2 linked regions of the Homo sapiens genome follow. The protein of the gene in region 1 interacts with the protein of each later gene in a biochemical or structural test. Each region holds a gene or a part of one and is shown in the gene's direction. Other genes may lie near its edges. The genes, in order: SYT3 and IQSEC1.

What was found.
Region 2: the proteins of SYT3 (region 1) and IQSEC1 form a complex in vitro, tested with the Homo sapiens proteins (one study listed by BioGRID).

What each region holds. Positions count from the first base shown.
Region 1 is NC_000019.10:50,634,717-50,647,095, reverse strand, and holds the start of SYT3 (synaptotagmin-3), read left to right. Parts: upstream 1-7,214; 5' UTR 7,215-7,306; intron 7,307-7,696; exon of another isoform or gene 7,697-7,933; 5' UTR 7,934-8,071; intron 8,072-9,150; exon of another isoform or gene 9,151-9,669; 5' UTR 9,670-9,684; coding exon 9,685-9,832; intron 9,833-12,379. UniProt on the Homo sapiens protein: Ca(2+) sensor involved in Ca(2+)-dependent exocytosis of secretory vesicles through Ca(2+) and phospholipid binding to the C2 domain.
Region 2 is NC_000003.12:12,926,944-12,939,397, reverse strand, and holds part of IQSEC1 (IQ motif and SEC7 domain-containing protein 1), read left to right. Parts: intron 1-2,700; coding exon 2,701-3,950; intron 3,951-12,454. UniProt on the Homo sapiens protein: Guanine nucleotide exchange factor for ARF1 and ARF6. Guanine nucleotide exchange factor activity is enhanced by lipid binding. Accelerates GTP binding by ARFs of all three classes.

The sequences.
Region 1 (12,379 bases):
CAGTTTGGGAGGCCGAGACGGGCGGATCACGAGGTCAGGAGATCAAGACCATCCTGGCTAACACGGTGAAACCCCGTCTCTACTGAAAATACAAAAAATTAGCCGGGTGTGGTGGCGGGCACCTGTAGTCCCAGCTACTTGGGAGGCTGAGGCAGGAGAATGGCGTGAGCCCGGGAAGCAGAGCTTGCAGTGAGCCGAGATCGCGCCACTGCACTCCAGCCTGGGCGACAAAGCAAGACTCTGTCTCAAACAAAATAATAAATAAATAAATAAATAAATAAATAATCCCTCCCACACATCCCACCTTATTTCTGTCTCCACTCTTTCCATATGCTGTGTCTTCTGCCTGGAATGCTCTTCCAACCTTTCCCCATGTCCCCAAATGCCCTCATCTTTTAATAAGAAGCTCAAGTGCCCTCTCCTCCAGGAAGCCCTCTCTGACTCATCCTCCTACCAGTTGTGTTTTCTGTCTCCTCCCTCCGACTGTTTTTTTATCTGCTCCTTCTCCAGACCTCTGAACACTGCCCTCCGCCCCATCTGTCTTGCTCAGAAATTTGTTTCCTGACTCATCTCTGGCTCTCTGGCATCACGCCACAAGGGCCAGGCTTCTGGGAAGTTCAGGACACATGAGTTGAATGAATACATGATTATTTCCCTCTATTTCTGTGACCCACACTCAGTAGCCCCCTAACCCCATCTGCCCTGTCCCTCCTGGTCTTCACGAGCCAACATAAGTTGAAGAAGAGAACATGGGCTCTGGCATCAAACAGACCAGCATCAAATGCTGCTCCCAGGCTGTGCAATGTCAGGCAAATGTCTTCCCCTCTCTGAGCCTCGTCTTCCTTATCTCTTGCCTTCCTCAATGCTACCTTCAAGGGCTGTTGGTGCTTAAGTGAAGCAAGGTACAGCAGCACCCCCAAATCGGAGCCAGGCACCAAGGAGGCACCCAAAAGGAGGTAATTTCCTTTCCAGTCCTCTGACTCTGCATCTAGCTTTGGCTGGATGTCACTGTCCCTCCTCCTCTGCATCTCTCTCTGCTCCTCTGTGTCTCTCTTCTTCCCTCTGGGATTTGGGACTCTATGTCTCCATCTATCTGTGCCTCCATTTGCTCTCTGTGTCTTTATCTTTCTTCCCTTCTCTCTACCTGTCTCTGGAACCCTACCTCATCTCTCTCTGTGTGTCTGCATTTGATTTTTGTGGGGGTTTGGGTTTCGTGGGGGGTTTTTTTGAGACAAGGGCCCAGGCTGGAATGCAGTGATACAATCATAGCTCACTGCAGCGTCAACCTTCTAGGCTCAAGCGATCTTCCCGCCTCAGCCTTCCAAGTAGGTGGAACTACAGGCGCACACACCACGCCTGGCTAATTTTTGTATTTTTTTGGTAAAGCTGAAATTTCACCATGTTGTCCAGGTTGGTCTTGAACTCTTGAGCTCAAGCTATCTGCCTGCCTCAGCCTCCCAAAGTGCTGGGACTACAGTGTGTGTCTGAATTTGAATTCCTGTATCACAGGTTTCTGTATTCCTGTATCTCTGTCTCTCACTGTCTGCATCTCTGTAGATTTCTGTATGTCTCTGTATCTCCATCTTTCTCTCCCTGTCTTTCTCTCTGTACATCTGTCTCTGTCTCCATCACTCTATTTCCCCATCTCTGTTTCTGTGTCTCCATCTCTCTTTCCTTCCCTTTCTCTCTATGTCTCTGTCTCTGCCTCCATGACTTTGCCTATTTCCCCATCTCTCTGCTTCTGTGTGTCTCCACCTCTCTGTCGCCTTGCCTGTCTCTCTGCCTTACTCCGACCGACTTCCCTCTGCCACTCAATCCATCTCTCTGGGCCATCCCTGTCCCACTTCCTGGCCTGGTGCCCAGTCTAAAACACACACCCCTGAATCAGCGTTTTCCTCCAATTCCAGAAATACTGTCAGCGCCGCAGTGGTGGCAGGGATGGCCATAGCCCTGGCCAAAAGGTGTGTCTCCCCACCTCCCCATTCTCAGTGTTTGCTCTCTCCAGGAGGAGCACCAGGAGAACAAGTGAATCTGTATTTACACACATGTGTGCATGCCTCTGAGTGTATCTGCATCTACCTCCAGGCACATATGTGTGTGAATCTGTAGGTATTTGTGAAAACTCATTCAATCAGTCACCCATCCATCCATCCCTTCATCTATTTCTCCAACATCCACCCAACCATCCTCTATCTAACTCTTCATCTATCTATCCAATCATCCAATCATCCATCCCTGCACCTAGCCATCCACTCATCCCTCCCTTCATCTATTTCTCCAAAATCCATCCATCCTTTATCTAATTCTCCATCTACCCATCCAATCATCCATCCATCCACCCAACCCTCCACTCATCCATCCCTTTATTTATTTCTGCAGCATCCATCCATCCTATCATCCACTCATCCATCCATTCCTTCATCTTTTTCTCCAACATCCATCCACCCATCCACAAATCCATCCATCTTCTATCCATTCAACCACTGACTCATTCATCCCTTCGTCTATTTCTGCAGCTTCCATCCATCCCATCCAACTATCCACTCATCCACTCATCCACTCATCCATCCCTTCATCTATTCCTCCAACATCCATCCATCTATCCACCAATCTATCCTCTATCCATCCAGCCATTCACTCATCCATCCCTTCATCTATTTCTGCAGTATCCATCTATCCATCCCCACTCTAACTCTTCATCTATCCATCCAATCATCCATGTATGCACCCAACCATCCACTCTTTCATCTATCCATTCCTTCATCTATTCCTCCAACATCCATCTTATCCATCCAGCCATTCACTCATCCACCTATCTGTCCATCCCTTCATCTATCCTTCCAGCATCTATCCAGTCATGCACCCATCCATCAATACATCATAGATTCACACATTCCTCCACTTATCCATTCACATGTTCATTCATTCATTCAACCAACCAATAAGTATTGAGTGCCTACCATGCGCCAGGTACTGTGCCAGGCAGCTGGGACACAGCTATGAACAAAACAAAGTGCTACTCCTACGGGGCTTGTGTGCTTGACAGCCCTCAAGGTGCCAAACTCCCTCCTGCCCCCAGGTCTTACATGAGCTGTTCCTTCTCCCTGGAGCATTTCCCCTCCCCTCCCTCATCTTCACCACCTGGCTTATGCCTACTCATCCTTCTGAGCTCAGCTGAAAAGTCACTTGCTCAGGAACTTCTCTGACCTCTCTCAAACACACAGCACAATGGATGTTCCTTCCTAGCATTGATCCTAGTATGAGGATCCTAGTATGTGTAGTTATTTGATTATTTTCTGTCTCTTCCACTAGACCATGAGCTCTTCCAACCCTGGAATTTTAGTCTATTTTGTTCCCAGATGAATCCCTGCTGTCTAAAAAAAAAAATGCCTGGCACACATTAGGTGCTCAGAAAGTATTTCTCAAATGACTGCATGAATCGAGTTGAATGAATATGGAAGATTCTATCTCTGTCTCCTGGCTCCCTGTCCGGTGTTCTTTATATTGTTCTATACTCCTAGCAGCAGTAGCATGCAAGTCCTCAAATGGGTCCTAGATGCAAACAGCATGGTGGCTAAAGGCAAGGGCTCTGGATTCAGATCCACTCCGTTTTTTGTTTTTTCTTTTTGTGTTTTGAGACAAGGTCTCACTCTGACATCCAGGCTGGAGTGCAGTGGCACGATCATGGCTCACTGCACTCCAGCCTGGATGTAAACGCACATCCATCCGGGGGGATGCAAGAAGGCACAAGGACGGGACTCTGGGCAGCCTCCATTTCCCCACAGCCTCGACTTCTGGGGCTCAAGCAATCCTCCCACCTCAGCCTCCCCCCAAGCAGGTGGGACTACAGGTGTGTGCCACCATGCCCGGCTAAATTTTGTATTTTTTGTAGAAATGAGGTCTCACTATGTTGTCCAGGCAAGTCTCAACTCCTGAGCTCAAAGGATCCTCTCACCTTTGGCCTCCCAAAGTGCTGGGATTACAGGTGTGAGCCACTGCACTTGGTCCAGACCCATACAGTTTTTAATCTCCACTCACACTTTCCAGATGTGTGATCTTGGGCAGAGCGCTTCCCTTGGTGAGCCTCAATTTCCTCACTTGTCAAGTCCAGCTAAAGTTTAAATGAGCAAATGCATTTAATTTTTATTTATGACAACACTAAACACTAGCCATTTTTCCTAAGCACCTTCCATGAATTTAATTTAACCCTCAAAATAACCCAGTGAGATACAATATGATTTTTTCTTTCTTTCTTTTTTTTGAGACAGAGTTTCACTCTTGTTGCCCAGGCTGGAGTGCAATGGCATGATCTTGGCTCACTGCAGCCTCTGCCTCCTGGGTTCAAGTGATTCTCCTGCTTCAGCCTCCCAAGTAGCTGAGATTACAGGCATGTGCCACCACGCCCGGCTAATTTTTGTATTTTTAGTAGAGACGGGGTTTCTCCATGTTGGTCAGGCTGGTCTCAAACTCCCGACCTCAGGTGATCTGCCAGCCTCGGCCTCCCAAAGTGCTGGGATTACAGGCATGTGCCACTGCACCCAGCCAGAGTATGATTTTTTAAAGTATTATTATCTGCACTTACAGAGAGGGAAACTGAGGCATGGAGAATCTAAGTAACCCCTCCAAGGTTGCATAGAGAGGGGAGCAGAGCTGGGATTTGAATCCCAGTGCTCTGCCCCCAAAGTCACACAGAAAACCAGTGCACTACGGCTGCCTCTCAATGCCTGGGCAGCCTCGGAATCCGAGCGTCTCTTTGGAAACGTGTCATGGCAGCGTGGCAAGCCCATCTGTGTGCCCATCTCTGAGTGTGTGCATCACTGCGTGTCTCTCCCTGTGGAACAGGGCTACCTGTGGACCCTGGGCAGGCCCAGCAGGGTTCAAGGGTCGGGCTGTTAGAGTTGGCATGGGGACCTGCACTCGTGGTCTGTAGGTTTACACCCGCACATGCTTCCCTGGATGTAAACACACATCCATCTGGGGGGATGCAAGAAGCCACAAGGAAGAGACTCGGCAAACCTGGGAGGCATTTCTGGGGGTTCTGTGGTAGTATAATGGCTGCAAAATGTACACATAGGCAGCAATAGGGGTAGGGTGTAATCTAATTAGAGGGAGGGCCCAGGATGCGTGCTTAAAGTTGTATTTGCAGAAGCAGCAAGCAATTTTTACTTTTATTTACTTACTTATTTTGACATTTTTATTTCTTGCTCTAAATATTTATTTATTTATTCATATTTATGTTTATTTTTGAGACAGGGTCTCACTCTGTCGCCCAGGCTGGAGCCCAGTGGCACAATCTTGGCTCACTGACTGCAACCTCCACCTTCTGGGTTCAAGTGATCCTTCTGCCTCAGCCCCCCAAGTAGCTAGGACTACAGGCATGCATCACCACACCCAGCTAATTTTTGTATTTTTTGTAGAGACAGGGTTTTGCCATGTTGCCCAGGCTGGTCTTGAACTCCTGAGCTCAAGTGATCCGCCCACTTGGCCTCCCAAAGTGCTAGGATTACAGGCATGAGCCACCGCACCTGGCTATTTATTCTTGAGATGGGGGTCTTGCTTTGTTGCCCAGGCTGGATGGAATGCAGTGGTGCAATCATAGCTCACTGCAGCCTCAAAATCCTGGGCTAGGCCGGGCGCGGTGGCTCACGTCTGTAATCCCAGCACTTTGGGAGGCCGAGGCGGGTGGATCACAAGGTCAGGAGATCGAGACCACGGTGAAACCCCGTCTTTACTAAAAATACAAAAAAAATTAGCCGGGCACGGTGGCAGGCGCCTGTAGTCCCAGCTACTCAGGAGGCTGAGGCAGGAGAATGGAGTGAACCCGGGAGGCGGAGCTTTCAGTGAGCCCAGATCGCGCCACTACACTCCAGCCTGGGCGACAGAGCAAGACTCTGTCTCACAAAAAAAAAAAAAAAAAAAAAAAAAAATTCCTGGGCTCCAGCAATCCTCCCACCTCAGCCTCCTGCGTAGGTGGGACTACAGGTGCACGCCACCACACCCACTAGTTTGGTTTTGTTTTGGTTTTTTGGTTTTTTTGTTTTGTAGAGATGGAGTCTCCTACGTTGTCCAGGATAGTCTCAAACTCCTGGCTTCAAGGGATCCTCCCACTTCAGCCTCCCAAAGTGTTGGGATTTACAGGTGTCAGCCCAGCCTTTGATTTTTACCTAGAGGTTGTATTTATTTGGATGTCACTGATTGAGAGCACTGAGGGGGCCTCCGAGCCACCTCTCCAGGCTATGTAGATCTAGATCAAGCTTGTCCAACCCATGGCCTGAGGCCCGCATGCAGCACAGGACAGCTTTGAATGCGGCACAACACAAATTTGTAAACTTTCTTAAAACATTATGAGATTTTTTTGTGATTTTTTTTTTCTCATCAGCTATTGTTACTGTTAGTGTATTTTATGTGTAGCCCAAGACAACAATGCAGTCCAGGGAAGCCAAAAGATTGGACACCCCTGATCTAGACCTTACCCAAGGGATTTAACCTCCATGGGCCTCAGTTGTCTCCTCTGTGAAATGGGAATGTCATAATTGCACCCAAGTGAAAATTAAATGAGAAAACGCTTTCAAAGCACTTAGCACTTCACCACTTATAGGAAATGACAATTGCCATTAACTGCTATTAATATACCAGAAACTGTTACTCACTACTTTTGAGAAATATTCATTAAGTACCTAGTTGGTACCAATGTTTTGTCTACACTGACCGGTTTTTCAAACTGTGGATCCCTTAGGAAATAAGTTTATGGTGTGTATTTTGCTGATGAGGAAACGGGGCCTCAGAGCAAGAGGCGCACACAGGCAGGAGTTGGCCCAGGTGGGATTCAAACCCAGGTCCCTGCTAGTACCTCTATCCTGGCTGTGGCACTGTACCTTTGAGTCTCAGCTTCCGCTCCTACCACCGGCCTTCAGAGCGGCTCAGGTTGGAGGGCCTGAAGTCCTGGGTTCCTGGGAAGAGGGGCCTGGGGTCCCCGGACTTCTACCTCTGTGAGATAGCGGGGCGGAGAACTGGGCCCCCGGACCCTGGAGAAGCAGCACGTCGTGATCCTAGATCTCTGGGTCCCCAGTGTGGAAACCCACTGGGTCTCTGCTGCCTTAGTCCCGGGCAATCTCCCTGCTTCCTTGCTGAGGCCAAGTGATTTCGGCTTTCTTGCCGCGGGTTCGGAGTGGGGGAAGGAGGGGGTGCAGGGGGAGGAGCCGCGGACCTGCGACAGTGGCGAGGGGAGGAGCCGAGCCGGCACCGCGGCTGGCGCGCGGGGCTGCGGCGGCGGCGGCGGCGGCAGCGGCGGCAGCGGCGGCTCCGGGTGAGTCCGCTCCTCCCCCTCCTCCTGCCACAGCCCCAGCCCCAGTCAAATCCCTGGGGTCGGCCCCGGCGCATGGGGGCGGGGTAGATGCAGAGGCGCGTGGATCTCGGGCCGGGGAGTGGGAGCGCTGCAGCGCTCTCTGGCCACCCCGGGGGAGGGGCACGTGGCCCTGGAAGGGGGTCCCGAAACACCTGGGTGTATCCCACCCCTCGCCCACCGATCCCCAGCGCGGGGGGATCGTTTCCTCATTCCGTGGCCCCTAAGGACTTAGGGCTCCGTGGCTTTTCGAAGTCCCGGACATCGTTCCCCTCCCCTGAAGCGTCTTGGGACCCCAGCATCTTAACCCCCCAAAACCTTAAAAAAAAAAAAAAAATCCCATCCTCTCTGCAGCCCGGAGGCATTAAGGACTTCAACTCCCAGCAGATCCTGCAGCGCCGGGTCTATGAAGCCGCAGCAGCGCGAGCGCGAGACCTGCCGGGAATTGTAGTCTCTAAGCCCTCAACGGGAGCTGGGGGCCCGGAGGTGGGAGGGGGTGGCCGGGCTCCCAGTGGGTCGCCTGGGGTCGGGCAGCTGGCTCGAGTAGGGCAAGATGTGACTGTTAAGCTGAGCTTTTTCTCCCGGCCTCAGCCCCTAGATCAGACATTCTCTCTCATTACCCGGCGCGTGGGAACGGGTCCACAGCCCCTTGTCCGCCCTAGAACCCCCATGGGCTGCCGCCCGCCGCCGCCTCGGCTGCCACCCAGGACACGGCAGAGATAAGCGCAGGTGAGTGTGGCCATGCCTGTCTTGGAGTCCTGGCCTTCTGCAGCACCCCCACGACACCTGTCCATCTGTGAGCCCTGGTCTGTCTGTTCCTAATTCCCCTGCATCCCCTTCAACCCATCTTGATGCCTGGCTCCGAGCCATGTGTCACTAATTCCCCCTCTCCCCACATCCACCTCTCCTTCCTAGCCTCCTCTCATTTATGTGCTCATTGAACCTTCCCTTATGAACCCATGTCTGTCTGCCCAGCCCTCCTGTCTCCTTTTGTCTATCTGCGATCTCTAGCCATCATCTGCTGTCCTTGCCCACCCATCCATCCTCCCGTTCGACCGTTTCTCTTTCAAAGATATTTCTGCCCACACTCCTGCCTGCCCCTCTTCACCGTCTCTCGTCCTCTCGTCTCTCAAGCCCCCGTGAATTAATTACATCTCGGTTCATTCCTTGTCACTGTCCATCCCAAGTCTCAATCCTTGACTTTCCTTCTGCCTGCCTGTTCACCTCTCCATCTCTTCGGAGCCTCAGTCTGCCCTTCACATTATCTCTGTCTCCCCTCCCTGTATCTCTCCCTCCCTCAACTTGGTCCCCATCTCTGCATCTCCACCTCTCCACCCCCAGCTCCCACCATACCTATCCACCTCCAATCTCTCTACCCACATCCATCCTTCTCTCCTGGCCCTCCCCGCGTCTACCCCAGTCTGGCCTCCTTGGTCCCTGGACCCTCCAACTGCTTTCCTACCCTAAGCCCCTGTCATCCTGCTCCTACTGTCTAAAATGCTTTTCTTTAAAATGCTTTTCCCATCCTGGCGCCACTGCCCCCCGCCTGTGGCTGGCTCCATGTCATCCTTCAGGTTTGGGAGAGCCCTCCCTGACCGCCCCCCTCTGAGTTCCTTTGTGACACATTCTCCAGCTGTGTCCTGTGGAGCGCTTCTCACAGACAGTCTGACAGTGACCGGTTTGTGTATGTGTTTTTGTTTGCTTGTTTACTCTATGTCTCCTCTCGTTGGATTGTGACACCGGGAGGTCAGGGAACTCCAGGACCTTGTTCTCTGCTGGATTCGCAGCAACCAGCACAGCACGTAGGGCGTAGTTGGTGCTGGATGGATGTTTGTTGAATGAATGAATGATGAATGGCTGGCACCTTGTCTGCTCATCCCTAACTCCTGTTCCTTCATCTGTGCAGCCCTAATCTTTGTTTCCTCATCTGTCCATCCCTTTATTTGTGCATCCTCATTCTTAGCCCCTTCACTGCCCTTCTCCATCTCTTCCTCCTTGTTCATTTGTCCCTGTTCTCTGTCCTCTACTCCACTCATGCCCATCTCTGTCCCCTTGACTTACCCAGTCCCTGCTACTATCTCCATCCCTAATTTCTGCCCTCTTGTCTGTCTACTCCTAATTCCTTTTCCTTGTCCATCCCTAATACCTGTCACCTTGTCCTTCTTCCTCGAATCTCCATCCCTAATCCATCTGCCCCTAATCTCTGTCCCCTTTGCCCATCCTTCCTTTTCTCGGTGTCTCTTTCCACCCTTATCTCCACACCTGCCCACCCTGCACTCCCATTCTGTTTCCCATCTGCACCCTTGCCCCATCCCTCCCACACACAGGACCAGACGGCCACCATGTCAGGAGACTACGAGGATGACCTCTGCCGGCGGGCACTCATCCTGGTCTCGGACCTCTGTGCGCGGGTCCGAGATGCTGACACCAACGACAGGTGCCAGGAGTTCAATGACCGAATCCGAGGCTATCCCCGGGGTCCAGATGCAGGTCAGCACCCCTGCCTGTCTTGGCCAGCCCCCTGCTTGCACTATGGCCAGGAGACTCGGAGCAGAACTGCTCAGCTTTCCATTGCTTGTGGGGTCAGTCCCTCGTAGCGTCTTGCCCCCATTCTGCCTGCTGCTGCCCTTCTCCCAAATCTCTGATCCAAGGGGAAGGAGCTGTGTGGTCTGCTTTTTGAGTTTTGCCCTGTGGGCCTCCCTCCGACTACCACCACCAAATGCCCCCTTCAGATATCTCTCTGCATCTTGTGCAAATGTCAGGCTCTTGAGTCAGACTGACTTGTTTGGGTTCAAGTCCCATCTCCCTCACTTTATTAATAACTGCATGGCTGTAGGTAAGTGACTCTTCTTCTGGGACTCAGTCTCCTCATCTGGAAAATGGGGATAATAAAAGGGATGCTTCATAGAGCAGATGAAAGACTTAAATGATATAACACCTACGAAGAACTTAGAACAATGCTGGGATTCACTTACTGAGCACCAACTGTGGTCCAGGCAGCATGCGAGGTCCTCTGCACATCTCAATGATTACTCACAGTGACCCTTTGTGGAACATATAATCCCCATTTTCAACAGAGGAAACTGAGGCTGAGAAGGGTGAAGTGACCTGTCCAAGGTCACACAGCTAGAAAGCAGCAGGGTTCTGGGAATGAGGAAACATTATGAGTGCCATTGTCCAGATGAGGAAACGGTGACCAGAGGAAGCATGTGCTGAGTGATTACAACCACAGTCACACTTGCTGAGCACCAGGGCAGGGTCTGGCACCTCATGTGCAGGATGTCCAGGTGACAGTCATGAGGGATAAGGCCGAGAGAGCAGCAGTCACTTGCCCAGAGGCTCAATGGTAGCAGAGGCAGAACTGAATCCTGCATAGTCTAGTACAGCACTGTAGTCTGGAGGTGCCCATGACCACCCTCAGGTTCAATGATTTGCTAGAATCATTGACTCACAGAACTCAGGAAACTGTTTTTGTTTGTCTGTCTGTTTGTTTTTGAGATGGAGTTTCACTCTTGTTGCCCAGGCTGGAGTGTAATTAATGGTGGGATCTCGGCTCACTGCATCCTCCACCTCCCAGGTTCAAGTGATTCTCCTGCCTCAGCCTCCAGAGTAGCTAGGATTACAGGCGTCTGCCACCACGCCCAGTTAATTTTTTGTATTTTCAGTAGAGACAGGGTTTCATCCTGTTCGCCAGGCTGGTCTCGAACTCCTGACCTCAAGTGATCCACCCGCCCCAGCCTCCCAAAGTGCTGGGATTACAGGCATGAGCCACCACGCCTGGCTGGAAACTGTTATACTCATGGTTATGGTTTATGACAGTGAAAGGATACAGACTGAAGTCAGCAAAGGGAAGAGGCACCCAGGGCAGAGTCCAGGACAGACCAGGTGTGAGCTTCCAGTCATCCTCTCCCAGTGGAGTCACATGGACAGTGCTTAATTTTCCCAGCAACGACATGTGACAGCATGCACAGTCTATTACGAACCAGGAAAGCTCACCTGAGCCTTGGTGGGCAGGGTTTTTATTGGGGGTCGGCCTCATATACGTGACTGATTGCTGGTGTGGCTGACTTTAGTCTCCAGCTCCTCCAGAGGCTGAGCTGGAGGCCTCCAGCATATATCACAGTGTTAACATAGACTATGCCACATGATCCAAGGCCCCAGGTAAACAAAGACACTCTAATCAGGCAGGACATTCCATGGGCTTAGAGGTTCCCTCCCGGGAGCTGATCAAGGGCCAAACCTTTCTCTGGGCAAGGTGAATCTTCTACTGCGCAACTACACCACCTCTCCACGCCCAAATAACTCCCCAGTCTGTGCAGACAGGAATGGGGAATCTGTCAGGGTTTGTGGGATTCATGTTTTGAGTTGGACAGGGTCTGAATCAGGCTGGCGGTAGGGGAAAGCATCTGTTTAATTTTTCTCCACAATGACCCTGTTTTCTCAACTCAACCTGTGTTCAGGAGGCTCATAAAGTCCTTGCCTCTGGTTTCTAACAGGCCACCCAGAATGCTCAGTGAGTGTTGGTCACTTAAAAAGGAGCACTCTGGGCCAGGTGTGGTGGCTCACACCTGTAATCCCAGCACTTTGGGAGGCTGAGGTGGGCGGATCACAAGGTCAGGAGATCAAGACCATCCATGGTAAAACCCTATCTCTACTAAAAATACAAAAACAAAAAATTAGCTGGGCATGGTGGCAGGCGCCTGTAGTCCCAGCTACTTGGGAGGCTGAGGCAGGAGAACGGCATCAACCCAGGAGGTGGAGCTTGCAGTGAGCCAAGATCACACCACTGCACTCCGCAGAGATCACATCACTGCACTCCAGCCTGGGTGACACAGCGAGACTCTGTCTCAAAAAAAAAGAGAAGGAGCACTCTGGCCAGGCATGGTGGTGCATGCCTGTAATCCCAGTACTTTGGGAAGCCGAGGTGGATGGATCTGAGGCCAGGAGTTCAAGACCAGCCTGGCCAACATAACAAAACTCCGTCTATTCCAAAAATACAAAAATTAGCCAGGCATGCTGGTGCCCACTTGTTGTTCC
Region 2 (12,454 bases), on another chromosome or scaffold:
TGAAGCAGGAAACTTGAGTGGGTTTCAGGTACTGTCCCTGTGTCATCAAGAAGTGACAGTTCTGCTTTGCTGAAGGGCATTCTTCCGGGTTCCTCTTCTGTACTGCTCAGAAGTTTCCCTTGAAGGGACAAGTGAGGGCCGGATGGGGGAGCCCTGGCCACGGGGTCGACTCCTCTATCCAGGAACCATGTGCCCTGGGGCAGCGGCTTCCCTCCGCTGAGCGTCTTCCCTCCGCTGAGTGTCTTGTCCTTGCTGAGAAGTGGGGTAGTGAAACCCCTCGGGAGAGCAGAAGCTGCTGTGAGGTGGCATGAGGGTATGGGGGTCCCCAGCACACATAGTAGATGAGCACATGTTAGTAGAATCTCATCCACTGGGTCCCGGGAAACTTTTCGACCGGGCCTGGCAATAGTTCCATCCCAGAAAGAAGAATGACCCACGGTAAGTTTGGGGACGAGGAAGAGTAGCCCCAGGTCCATGTGTGTCCCCCTGGGGGAGGAACTGCCAGGGGCTCTGGTGAACAAATGCAGAGCCCATTGCTGCCTTCCTGAAGTCCCTTCGCCCCCAACACACACAGGTTTGGGCAGGAGGTCTCAGGAAAACAGGGTGGCTGCGTGGTCTGCGAGGTCCGGAGCCAGCAGGTGAGAAGGCCCTGCGGGGAGCTCTAGGCCTGAGCTGGAGGTCCTCGTACTTGTGCCGCCCACAAAGTACAGTGAGGGAAGAAAGGCTTCCTAGATCCCAGCCTTGGGCCTCTTATGGGCCCCAGGGGCTTTCTAAGCTCCACTCACAACCCAAAAAATAGAAACTTTCTGCTTACAGTTGTGGAAGTGAGGTCATTTCTTGGATGGCGTTCAGTAACAGGGCGAGAGAGAAAACAGACTGTGGCCTGGGATTGGAAAAGTCATTTTGATCTGCTCCCCTCAAGCCCCCCCAGCTCTTCTCCTCCACCCAGCCTGCTGGGACCACCCAGAGCCAGGCAGCACGCATGGGCATGCAAGGCCCTGCGTGGCCCTGAGCCAGTCTCCCTGGTGCAGGCCACAGCCTTCGATTTGCTGGACGTCTGTTTGGCATTATTTCAGTTCTGCGCCTGCAGCTGCCTGCTCTCCTTGACAGACCCCTCGCTCCTCGAGGGCAAGGACCTCCATGCCTCCCATTCCACCTCCAGGTGTGATGTGATGCCCAGCATGTAGTGGCATCTGGGACCATACAGGCAGGTGCAACGCTTTGCCTGGCTCCTAGCCCCACATCACATGCCCACGCCACCCCAGCACCCCAAGAGGCCTGGCTTGGCGGAGAAGCCAATTCCTTATCTTGGCCGCAGGAGTGTGTTCATTGTCCACTCAGGAGCAAGGTGCAGGGAGTGGCCCTCAGGACCGTCCTTGGTCACGGGTGCCTCAGGAATTCGGGAGGTCTGTGTGTCCCGCTGAAGCACCCAGGGTTCACCCCGCCCTCTCCCTGCATGTAGCTCACCCCTCACAGGAACGAGCTGTGTAGGCCAGACGAGCCATCTAGGAATGGCGGTGCTCATGAGGGAAAGCCAGCTCCAGAGCCTGAAGGCCTCTTGAGTATGTGTTGAGTCTCTTCTCTGGGCCACAATTTGCCCATCTGTAGAGCAAGGGAGCTTGGGGGCTTTACGAACTGTAAATCCCTTCCCAGAATGCAGCTGAGGGTCTTTCCAGCCCAGCTGCCCCCGTGCTTGGCATGTGCCAGCCCTTGGCCTCTGTCTCCCAGGCTCACCACAGTCATAGGAGGCAGGTCCCAGCACTACCCCATTTAATAGATGAGGAAACCGAGGAACTGCATGGGCTCAGTGCTTACTCTGGGTCACCCAGCTACCAAGGGGCATAGCCTGGATTAGAACTCAGGCACCTGGCCTCAAAGCCTGCTTCTCAGTGCAGCAAACCCCACAGGTCTCCCTGAAGCTCAGTGACCCATCTGGCCACAAGAGCTGCCTGGTTGATGCTGTGGAAAGGAAATGAGTCCAGAAGCCTGTGGGCCTTGCTGGGATCTTTAGCCTATCTCTTGAACTGTGCATACTTCTTCCAGGGTCTCCAAATGGGTTTCGTTAGATGGCATACCTCAAGATGCACCAGGGCCAGGGGCTTCTGTGACCCAAGACACTGGGGACACTCAACATAGTGTATCTCACTGCCTTTTAAAGTTTCTGAGGCCCTGCATGGTGGCTCACGCCTGTAATCCCAGCACTTTGGGAGGGCGAGGCGGGTGGATCACCTGAGGTCAGGAGTTCAAGACCAGCCTGGCCAACATGGTGAAACCCCATCTCTACTAAAAATACAAAAATTAGCTGGGCGTGGTGGTGGGTGTCTGTAATCCCAGCTACTCGGGAGGTTGAGGCAGGAGGATCGTCTGAACCCAGGAGGCGGAGGTTGCAGTGAACCGAGATTGTGCCATTGCACTCCAGCCTAGGTGACAGAGCGAGATTCTGTCTCAAAAAAAAAAAAAAGAGGTCTGAGAGAGGAAAAACATGGTTGCACTCATTTTAACTTGGTGCTTCTCTGTCCAGTTTGACCTTGGGACTCATATTTTGCATAAGCCCACCAGCATCCCTCAGCAGTTGCTTTGACCAACTTTGGGACCTTCCCAGGTCGCACAGCCACGTGGCTAGGAAGTGGGAAGGAGTTTGGTAAATGTCGCACTGTGCCTACATGCAGTGCTGTTCTCATTCTCCTCTCCCACCCGCAGGTGGAGATGCTAGAACGAAAGTATGGGGGGCGCCTGGTAACCCGCCATGCGGCCCGCACCATCCAGACGGCGTTTCGCCAGTACCAGATGAACAAGAACTTCGAGCGCTTGCGCAGCTCCATGTCAGAGAACCGCATGTCACGCCGGATTGTGCTGTCCAACATGAGGATGCAGTTCTCCTTTGAGGGGCCTGAGAAAGTGCACAGCTCCTACTTCGAGGGGAAGCAGGTCTCAGTGACTAACGACGGCTCCCAGCTGGGAGCCCTGGTGTCCCCTGAGTGTGGTGACCTCAGCGAGCCCACCACCCTCAAGTCTCCGGCCCCCTCCAGTGACTTTGCGGACGCCATCACCGAGCTGGAGGACGCCTTCTCTAGGCAAGTGAAATCACTGGCCGAGTCCATCGACGATGCCCTCAACTGCCGCAGCCTGCACACTGAGGAGGCACCGGCCCTGGATGCGGCGCGGGCCCGGGACACCGAACCCCAGACAGCCCTGCACGGCATGGACCACCGCAAACTGGACGAGATGACGGCCTCGTACAGTGATGTCACCCTGTACATCGATGAGGAGGAGCTGTCGCCCCCTCTGCCCCTCTCGCAGGCAGGGGACCGGCCGTCCAGCACCGAGTCGGACCTGCGGCTACGGGCTGGGGGCGCAGCCCCAGACTACTGGGCCCTGGCCCACAAAGAGGACAAGGCTGACACGGACACGAGCTGCCGGAGCACGCCGTCGCTGGAGCGGCAGGAGCAGCGGCTGCGGGTGGAGCATCTGCCGCTGCTCACCATCGAGCCACCCAGCGACAGCTCTGTGGACCTTAGTGACCGCTCGGAGCGGGGGTCACTCAAGAGGCAGAGTGCTTACGAGCGCAGCCTTGGCGGGCAGCAGGGCAGTCCCAAGCATGGTCCCCACAGCGGCGCCCCCAAGAGCCTCCCCCGGGAGGAGCCTGAGTTGCGGCCCCGGCCCCCCAGGCCCCTGGACAGCCACTTGGCCATCAATGGCTCAGCCAACCGGCAGAGCAAGTCTGAGTCGGACTACTCAGACGGTGACAATGACAGCATCAACAGCACGTCCAACTCCAACGATACCATCAACTGCAGCTCCGAGTCATCGTCCCGTGACAGCCTGCGGGAGCAGACGCTCAGCAAGCAGACCTACCACAAGGAGGCCCGCAACAGCTGGGACTCGCCTGCCTTTAGCAACGATGTCATCCGCAAGAGGCACTACCGCATCGGCCTGAACCTCTTCAACAAGTGAGTACCATGGGTGACCCCTCAGGGTGGGCAGCTGTGGCTTGCTGGGCCTTGGCGGGTGGGCGTGGCTGCATCCTTCCAAGCACGGAGCTTGAGGTCCACCGTGGCCTATGAGCATAGGAAGCTGCCACACAAGGTCGGTGGCTAGGACGGTGCCAGCCTGTGCGCTGAGGCCTAGCCCCTCCTGGGACTGCTGGTGGGGATGGCAACACACACAGGCTGAGCAGGGGCAGAATGGGAGCTTTCTGTGCCGAAGCAACTTGAGTCCCGGGCCCTTCCGTCCCATCCCCCCCAAGTCCGCCATAGCAAGTGGGGTATGTTGGGCCATGCCCTGCGCAACTTTGGATGTCAGGCCTAGGGGTGATGTGGGACACAAAGGCCTTTGAGCAGGGGTATGACCGGTTGTGTCAGTGGGGGGCAGGGGCAGACAGGCGAGACCCAGGGCTGTGTCTTGTGGGGGATGCAGGCCAGACCTGAGGCCATGTCTGGGGGTAGGAGTGCTCAGGGGCAGTTGCTGGCCAGACCCAGAACCGTGTCCTGGATGGAAGGAACTCAGACAGATGCAGGCCAGACCCAGGGCTGTGTCTGGGGGTCTTGGGGAGATGCATGAGTTGGGTTCATGGAGTAGCTGCTCCCCAAGGGGGTCCTGGAAAGGTGCCGTTGACCATCCTGAGAGCAGATCCAAGGAGCGATGGGTATTTAAAGCAGACTATTCTTAGCACAGCCAAAAATAGCAAGAGGAAGGGGAGGAGGGCTGAGCACTTGGCCTGGGGAACGTGCAGGCTCCTGTCCAACCTGAGATTTCTCGTTATTTCCACTCCCTGGGCTACTGGGATTTGGCCTCATCAGATGCTGGCCTGGCACCAACTCCCCTGGGCTGGTGGTTCCTGACACACATCCGGGGAGCCAGGGGCAGACGACAGTTTTCCCAGGAGGTCAAACTAGGGTGATGAATGGCGCAGTGGGACCTGGCCACCTCAAAGCCAGTGCCTGAGCTGGCTCCCTGCTCCGTCTGCCCCCTGTTCTCTCTTCTTCTAGACTGGGGGAGATGGTGCTTTTGAGCCATTCCTGGGACACATGGAAGCACTATCTTGGGATGTCAGAGAGGCCTGTCTCAGGAAGAGCCTCTGGGGAATGGTGCATTCACTTGGGGCCAGTAAGGGGCAATGGCTTACTGGTTTGCTCAGCTAAGAACAAAGAGTCTTGGACATCTCACATCTACCAGGATGCTCTCTCCTGAGCCTGTGATCTGCCTGTGGCTTGCTGCAGAGTACGGCTGCTCTCACTGCTGCACAGGCCACGGCCGGAGCAATGCGCTGGACAGGGGAGGGTTGCATCCTGCTGGCCCACCTGACACGGTCCCTGAAGTCTGTCCCCACTGCTCCTGGGCACAGCCGAGCTCCAGGATCATCTCTCGACCCAGGCCCATGTGCCCTAGAGGGGAGGCTGGGATAACCAGGGGTCCCTGCAGAGTGGACAGGTGGAGGCCAGCAGTGGGGAGACAGGAAACCAGGAAAAACCACCTCCCTCAACCAGCCAGCTTTGGTCTGTGTAGATTCTTTCTTATTCAGTTAACTTTTAATTATCTGTGTAGCACGTGAATACATTCTTCACAGAAAATGCATGCCTTGCAGCTCAGGATAACATCCTCTTGGACTCAGCATGTTGCAGTCTCTCCTTCCAGATTTTTTTCCTGTGCATTTGTGTGCACTTCTAGGAACTCTAGACAGCCATGGTTAAGAACACAGCTTGGGGCTTGCTTGCCTGGCTTTAAATCCTGGCTGTGCCCCATCGTATCTCTATGTCCTTGGGCAGCATAACCCCCCGTCCCACAGTGGCCGCATCTGTGAAATGGCTGATGCCAGGGGCACCCTCCTCCCAGGGCGGTGAGGGTAAAGCGTTGGTCTGTGTGAAGTGCTGAAAGCAGGACGTGGCACAGGATAGGGCCTTACTATGTATTAGCTGCTACTGTTGGATCCTTGCTGACATCACTCAGGGCGCGGGACTGTGACATTGTCTTATGAGGGTATCGCTGGGCTCTACACACAGGCTGTCTTGCTCCTGTGTGCTGCTGAGTGGTAGTCCCCGCCGTGGCTATAGGTTATTTGGCCAGTTGCTTCTAGCTTTTCATAACTAGCACTAGTGTGACAGTGGTTGTGATCCTTACACACACACCTGGCAGGCCTCTAGATCATATGGCTGGAAGTGGAATTGCTGGGTCTTAGCTAGGCACGTTTTTAGTTGAAGGAGGAACTGCCCTTTCCCTTCCCTTTCTTTGGCCCTGCGCCTGTGTACCACCTCCACTTCTCTCCCTGCGGGGTGGTATGTCCCGGCCTTTGCCCGGCCTCCAGCACAGCTCTCAGTTCCCACCCCTTCCTAGCAACGAAGCAGTGAGCGTTCCTGGCACAGGCCTCTGTCTGGGGGGACGCCCCCTTTAAGGGAATCATGTACCAAAGTGGGAGAGCCAGCAGCAAGCGGGGAGGAAGAACAGAAACGAAGCCTGAGAAAGTGGTGTAGGTTGGTGGGGAGGGCATCCCGGGGGCTGCCGAGGTCTACCAGGCCTCCAGATGTTCCTCTGGGCATCTGCCGCTTACTCCCAGCTGGCCCAGCTGACAGCCACACAGCTGATCTGGCTGGCGGTGCTGCGGGAGGGCAGGGGTGCAGGAGCCAGAGGCAGGAGGGTTTCAGTCCTGGATCTGCCACCTATCAGCTGTGGGACCTGGGGCAACTCCCTGAACTCTCTGAGCCTCACTGCCTGCACCCGGAACATGTTTGTGCAGTGGATGGCAGCTGTTGTGGTCAGCAAGGGCTTCTGTGTCCAGAGTGCCAAGGGAAGGGAGCTTCCAGGGCTGGGCTTTAGGAAGACCCAAACAGGCATTGTGATGGGCCAAGCAGTCAGAAATAACGAGAATAGCTAATCCTTCCATGTGCTGACGGTGCGCCAGGCATGGTTCCCAGGGCCTGTCACGCGCTAACGCACGTTACCCTGTGCAGTGGGTGAGCTGAGTCTCACATAGTTGGTAGACGACTAGGGACGTCACACCCTGGCCACTTGGCTCCTGAACACATCCTCTTAAAATCCATGATGTAGGAACTGCTACCACAGGTATCCCTGGGCTCCCTACCTCCTCACTGGGTGACAGATCTGTAAACTGAGTCCAGGAGGCAGAGCCACACCATCTGTGGGACGCCATGCAGCCCTGCAGCACATGGAGCTGGGGCAGGTGCCCAGCAGGGACCTCACTGAGTCTGTCACCTCCGCATTGGAACCCCACCCCAGCGTCTCCTGCTCCTGTACCTGGTACACACCGTCAGGGGTACATGCCTGGCTATGTCCACTTTCTGTCTGTCACATTCCTCCCTGGAATGAGCCCAGGTGACCATGTCACAGGTGAGCCACACCAGACCTCTCCCACCTCTGCAAGAGCATCCTTGGCCCCAGAGCTGCTTCATGATGACACGGGCACCCTCAAAAAGGAGTGAGAAGCTTGTCTCTGAGAAACATGTACGCAGGGCTTGGGTGGCCACCTGGTGTGACAGTGTGGTTGGACTACTTGGCTAAGAGCTTTCCACAGGGGCCTCTGAGGCCCTTCCAGCACAGGGCCCTGTACCTGGAGGCAGCCCCCTTCTGTGGACCTGGCCTCCCCTACACTCGGCGCCCAGCCCCTGGGGCCCAGCAGCCTCGGGTCCCATCCACCTGCTGGAGCTACTGCAGAAGGGAGGCAGGGGATGCTGTCACTGGGATCCTGCAGGGAGCGTGGCTGTTTCACCCTTCCAGCGCCCCCAGGGGGCCATTCCCCTCCACCTGTGGGAACAGGGCTCAGAGAGTACCCCTGATCTGCATGCTCCAGCTCTGTGCTCCTTGTGTTTAACGTGTCTGCTGTCATTGATAAAAATAGCAGTGAGCAGAGCCGGCCTGTGCAGAGCCTGGACCAAGCGCCAGGCCCCATGCCGAACACCTTCCGCCTATTGTCTCACTGATTCGCCACAGCCATCCTGGGAAGCGTAGGTGCAGGCAGCGAGGCTGAGAGCCCAGGCCCAAGCTCAAGGCCACACACCAGAAGTGCTGGGCCCAGAGGATGTGCAGTGCTGCTCCCGTAGCCTGTGGTGCTGATGATGGAAAGGATGGGCTCTCTTAGGAGCACTTTGAGCTGGGTCTTTGGAGGTTGGGACCCCTCTCCCCTAGACACAGGCCACTGTGGCCTGTGGCCCTTGATGCTACCCGCAGCCCAGGATCCCGAGCCCTGGCCTGGGTCTGAGGTGGCTGGTGCTGAGTCTTGGAGAAGAAGACAGTGCCAAGGGAAGCCCTGCAGGGGGTGCTTGCCACACTTCAGAGGGTGATTCTCCTGCCTTCTCTCTGGGATCAATACCAGGGAAGCCACTTGGGTTCACGCTACCAGAAAGTGCGTGTAAAAGTCAGAGCTGGTGGAGCAGGCAGCCTCCGGAGGTGGCGAGCTTGCTGGCCCTGGCAGTGTGGGAAAGGCTGGAAGTGGCACCTCTCTGCAGGACCCTAGGTTGCTGCATTGGAAGGGCATTTTCAGGTGTGCAGGGACTCTCCGAATGCTGAAGTTGGTGAGTCTATCCTCACCCCCACAAGCAGTTAACAGTTACCAGGGCTCAGACCTCTGACCACGGAGATCCTCGGGCACTCCAAACCCTGTGTTGGTCTCTGCGTTAATCATGGCCTTCTCTGTTGCATGTGACAGGAACTCTATCAAACTGGGTTAAGCAAAGAGGCTTTACTGGTTCACGGACCTGAAAAGTCCCGGGTATTTCTTGGCTCCATCTGGCTTAGGGTTGGCCCTGCCCCTTGCCAGATCCTCCCTGACCCAGGGCAGGAGGGCCATCAGAGAACCCCAGGCCTGTAGTCTGACCTCAAGGCAACCCCAGTAGGAGGAAGAGAGATTCTCCTCCCCTCATCGGCTCCTTCTGGCTCTTGTGCCTCTCCCTGAACCACTTGGGCAAGCAGGATGCAGGGCTCTGACTGGCCTGGAGCAGAGAGTAGAATCTGCCCACTAGGTCTTAGGGCCTGAGCTGGAGGGTAGGCTGGGAAACCTGGGGGCTGAAGCTAGGTGCTTGGGCATCCATCCACTTCCACATCTCTTAGGCATCCTGAACAGTTAAAAAGGACTGGAGCCAAGCACAATGGCACATGCCTGTGGTCCCAGCTGCTTGGGAGGCTGAGGCGGGAGGATCACTTGAAACTAGGAGTTTGAGGCCAGTCTAGACAACATAGTGAGACCTGGGTCTTAAAAGAGAGAGAGAGAACCCTTTCCTGGATCCTGCACACCCCTGCTGGGAAAATACCAGGGTAAGCACTCAGTGCTTTGCTCCAGCAGGTAGGTGTTCCCCACGTGCAATCCACAGCCTTGCAGCAGCTCTTCCTCAGAGCCTCACACAGCTCACTCTTCCCACCAGCAGCTCAGCTTGCCGCTGAAAGACGATGAGAGATGCGTGTGCAGGAAGTGACTGGTGCAGTCTGTGCTTACCTGTCACACTTGAATCTGAATCGTCATCTGATGTGAGGAAAAGCTGGCTCAGCCAGCTTTAGAGGAGGCAGCTAAGGCCAGACCTGGGAGCACACAGCAGGGATGGAGCCAGGAGGCTCCGACTACACTGCCTGCTGGGGCATTTTAGGGGGCAGCAGGGCCGGGGGTACAGAGGTGGGTCAGGTATAGATGATGAGAATGTTGCAGGCAGCACCTGTTAATGCTGGGTCCTTACAGGGTGGAATCAAGAAGAGCTAAAGAAAGAGTAACGGGTATACACAAAGGGACTGTGGGAATGGGGTGACTGCAGAGTTGGACGGAGTGGATTTTCAGCAGCAGGAAGGGCATCCGGAGGGTAGAGGGAATTTTTAGGGACTTCTGGGGCAGAAGCGTGGATTATAAGTCCTGGTACCCATCATCTTGCTGGGCAACCTGGAGCCAGTTTTTTGACCCTTCTGTGCCCCCATTTTGTTACCTGTCAAGGCTTTTGCATTGGCTGTTCCCTCCACCAGGGACCTTCTTCCTGGCTCTCTGCCCAGGCTCAATGCCATCTCGTCAGGGTGGGCTTTCCTGCCCGTCCTTCTGCCCCTTCCAGCTGAAGTCGATGCCGTCCCAGCTTTCTGTGGCATCACCCCGGGTGAGTTCTTCTAGCCCAGGCCTCTCCTTCCAGCTGTGAAGCCTGAAATGGTTTCTGAGGCCTGAGGCATGGTACGTTATGAGTACGAACTCATGGATTCTTCACAGTAACCATTGTGTGAACTGCTGTCATCCCCATTATACAGACACACAGAAAGGCTAAGTTCACTCACCCTGGGTCGCCCAGCCAGAAGTGGAGCTGAGACGGAAGTGTGGGCTTCTGACTCTCCCAGCCATGCCCCTGATGCTTGTACTGTAGCATATTTCTGTATTCTTGGACTTTATCTCCGTCTGTATCCCTCTCTAACTAGAAAGCATGTTTTTTGACGATGGGGACCATAACTGTGCTAGCATAGCACCTAGCCAGGGTAGGTGCCCAATAAATGTTTGTGGAATGAATGAAGGAGGTGGGTGTCCATAGGGGACCGCACAGCTTCCCCCTTGAAGTGACACAGACCCCTCAGCTCACAGTTCAGTGGCTGAAGCATGTCCTGCAGCCCTCTCCCCAGGGCAGGCGGGAAAGTAAAGTCCTGCCAGGAGAGGAGGTGGTGGGGGTCCAAGGCCACACCAAAGGCCCACCTTCGACCTGTGTGATGCTTGGCAGACCTTGTGGAACTCTGTGAGGCAGGGCACAGGTGGATGGAGAATTCACCACCCAGCAGGGCCACCAAGGACTGATTGGGGAAGGAAGGGCTTCATTACACGGGCTAGGAGTAGGGGAGGGTAGCAAGGTCCCAATGGCAGGGGATTCCCACCAGTAAATGCCCAGTGCCCTGGCCGTCTGCTGTCAGGGAGGCTGTTGAGGGCCTGTCACTCCTGCAGGGAGCTTTGCGGAGACTCCCAGCCCCACCCTGGAGCCGGCCCTGGCTGTCCAGCTGCAGCTTCTCCCTAGTTCCCCTCAGGTCAGCAGCGAGCTCTTCATCACCGGCCTAGGCCCCCTCACTGAGCATCCTCACTTCTGCGGTATGGCCCTTGAGGCCTGCCGGGTGGAATCCATCGCCCGCACTAGGTTCAGGCTAAAAGCTGACGCCATCCTGGACTCACTGCTCCTTGTCCTTCTTGCTCCTACCTCCACCGCCCCCACCTCGGCCACCCCCACCCAGATCCATCAGCAAATATTGACACCTCTGCCCTCAGACTGTGTCCTCAACCCGGCCCCCTCCCACCTCTGCTGCAGCATGGCCAGGTGCCCACAGGAGCCCCTCACTCAGCTGCCAGCTGGGCCCTGGCCCACGATCTCCCCAGCATGGCATCGCTCTTGTGGACTTAGGACCCCATCACCACCCTCTTGACCTCACACTGGGGCTTCTCAGCCCACTCGGGAGAAAGCCAGACCCCTCTCCATGGCCTGCTGTACAGTGCAGTCTGCCCACCGCCCCACTACCCCCTTCGCCTTCCCCCAGGGTCCCTGTGCTCAACCCTGGAATAGCCTCTCAGGTCTCCCCACCCACCTCAGCACCTTTGTCCTCACTGTCACCTCTTCCCAGAAAATTGCCTGATACCTCAGTCTCTGTCCCTTGCCCCCTGCACAGACTAGGCCTCTCAGCTGCACCCGCAGGGGCCCACGGCCTACTCCCAGCCAGTGTTCACCAAGAGGTGCCTGGCCCAGCAGACACATGGTGCTCACCTAATCCTGAAGAGCCCACGTGCCCGCTTCCCACAGCACCTTCCCCTCTTCCCTCTGTGCTCTGAGCACCTCCAGGGCCGAGGAGCCTTGTCCTGGAAGTCCCTGGATGTGGCACATCCACATCAGAGGGTGGATGGGGGCAAAAAAAGAGCAGCGGCAGAAGGCGGGACCCGGCTGGGCCTGGACCTGGTCACTGCAGCGGTGGCCTGGAGGGACCAGACAGCCTGGGTGGAGTTAGAGCATGCACCTATGTGGGGAAGGGACCAGACAGCCTGGGTGGAGTTAGAGCATGCACCTGTGTGGGGAAGGGACCAGGCAGCAGGGGTCGGGGAGCCTAGCCCGGCTCCCCCACTCACTGCCGTGGAGGCCAGGGAGCATAGGCCCAGGGACGCCAGAAGGTCTGATTTTTCAGAAGCCAGAAATCCAGATTTTTTGTGCACTCTTCCAGTTTTTAAATACTGGCAACGAACTAGAATTCTTTTTGTTAACAGTGTGTGGGCCAAAGAAAACCCAACTGTAGGTGAGCCATGGCGACCCCTCACCTGGAAGCTGAGGGAGGGAGAGAAGGGTGTGGGCTGGTGCTGGCATGGAGCAGGATGGTGAGGACCCAGAATCTGCTCTGGCCTTGGCTGTAGAGGCCTGGGGCATTGGAGCAGTTCTTGTTTGGAGACCCCCGAATCATAGCGAGGCATGTGATCTTGTGAATAGTGAAACCCTGGTCCTTCCATCCTGGGTCCCTGGGACAGGTAGGG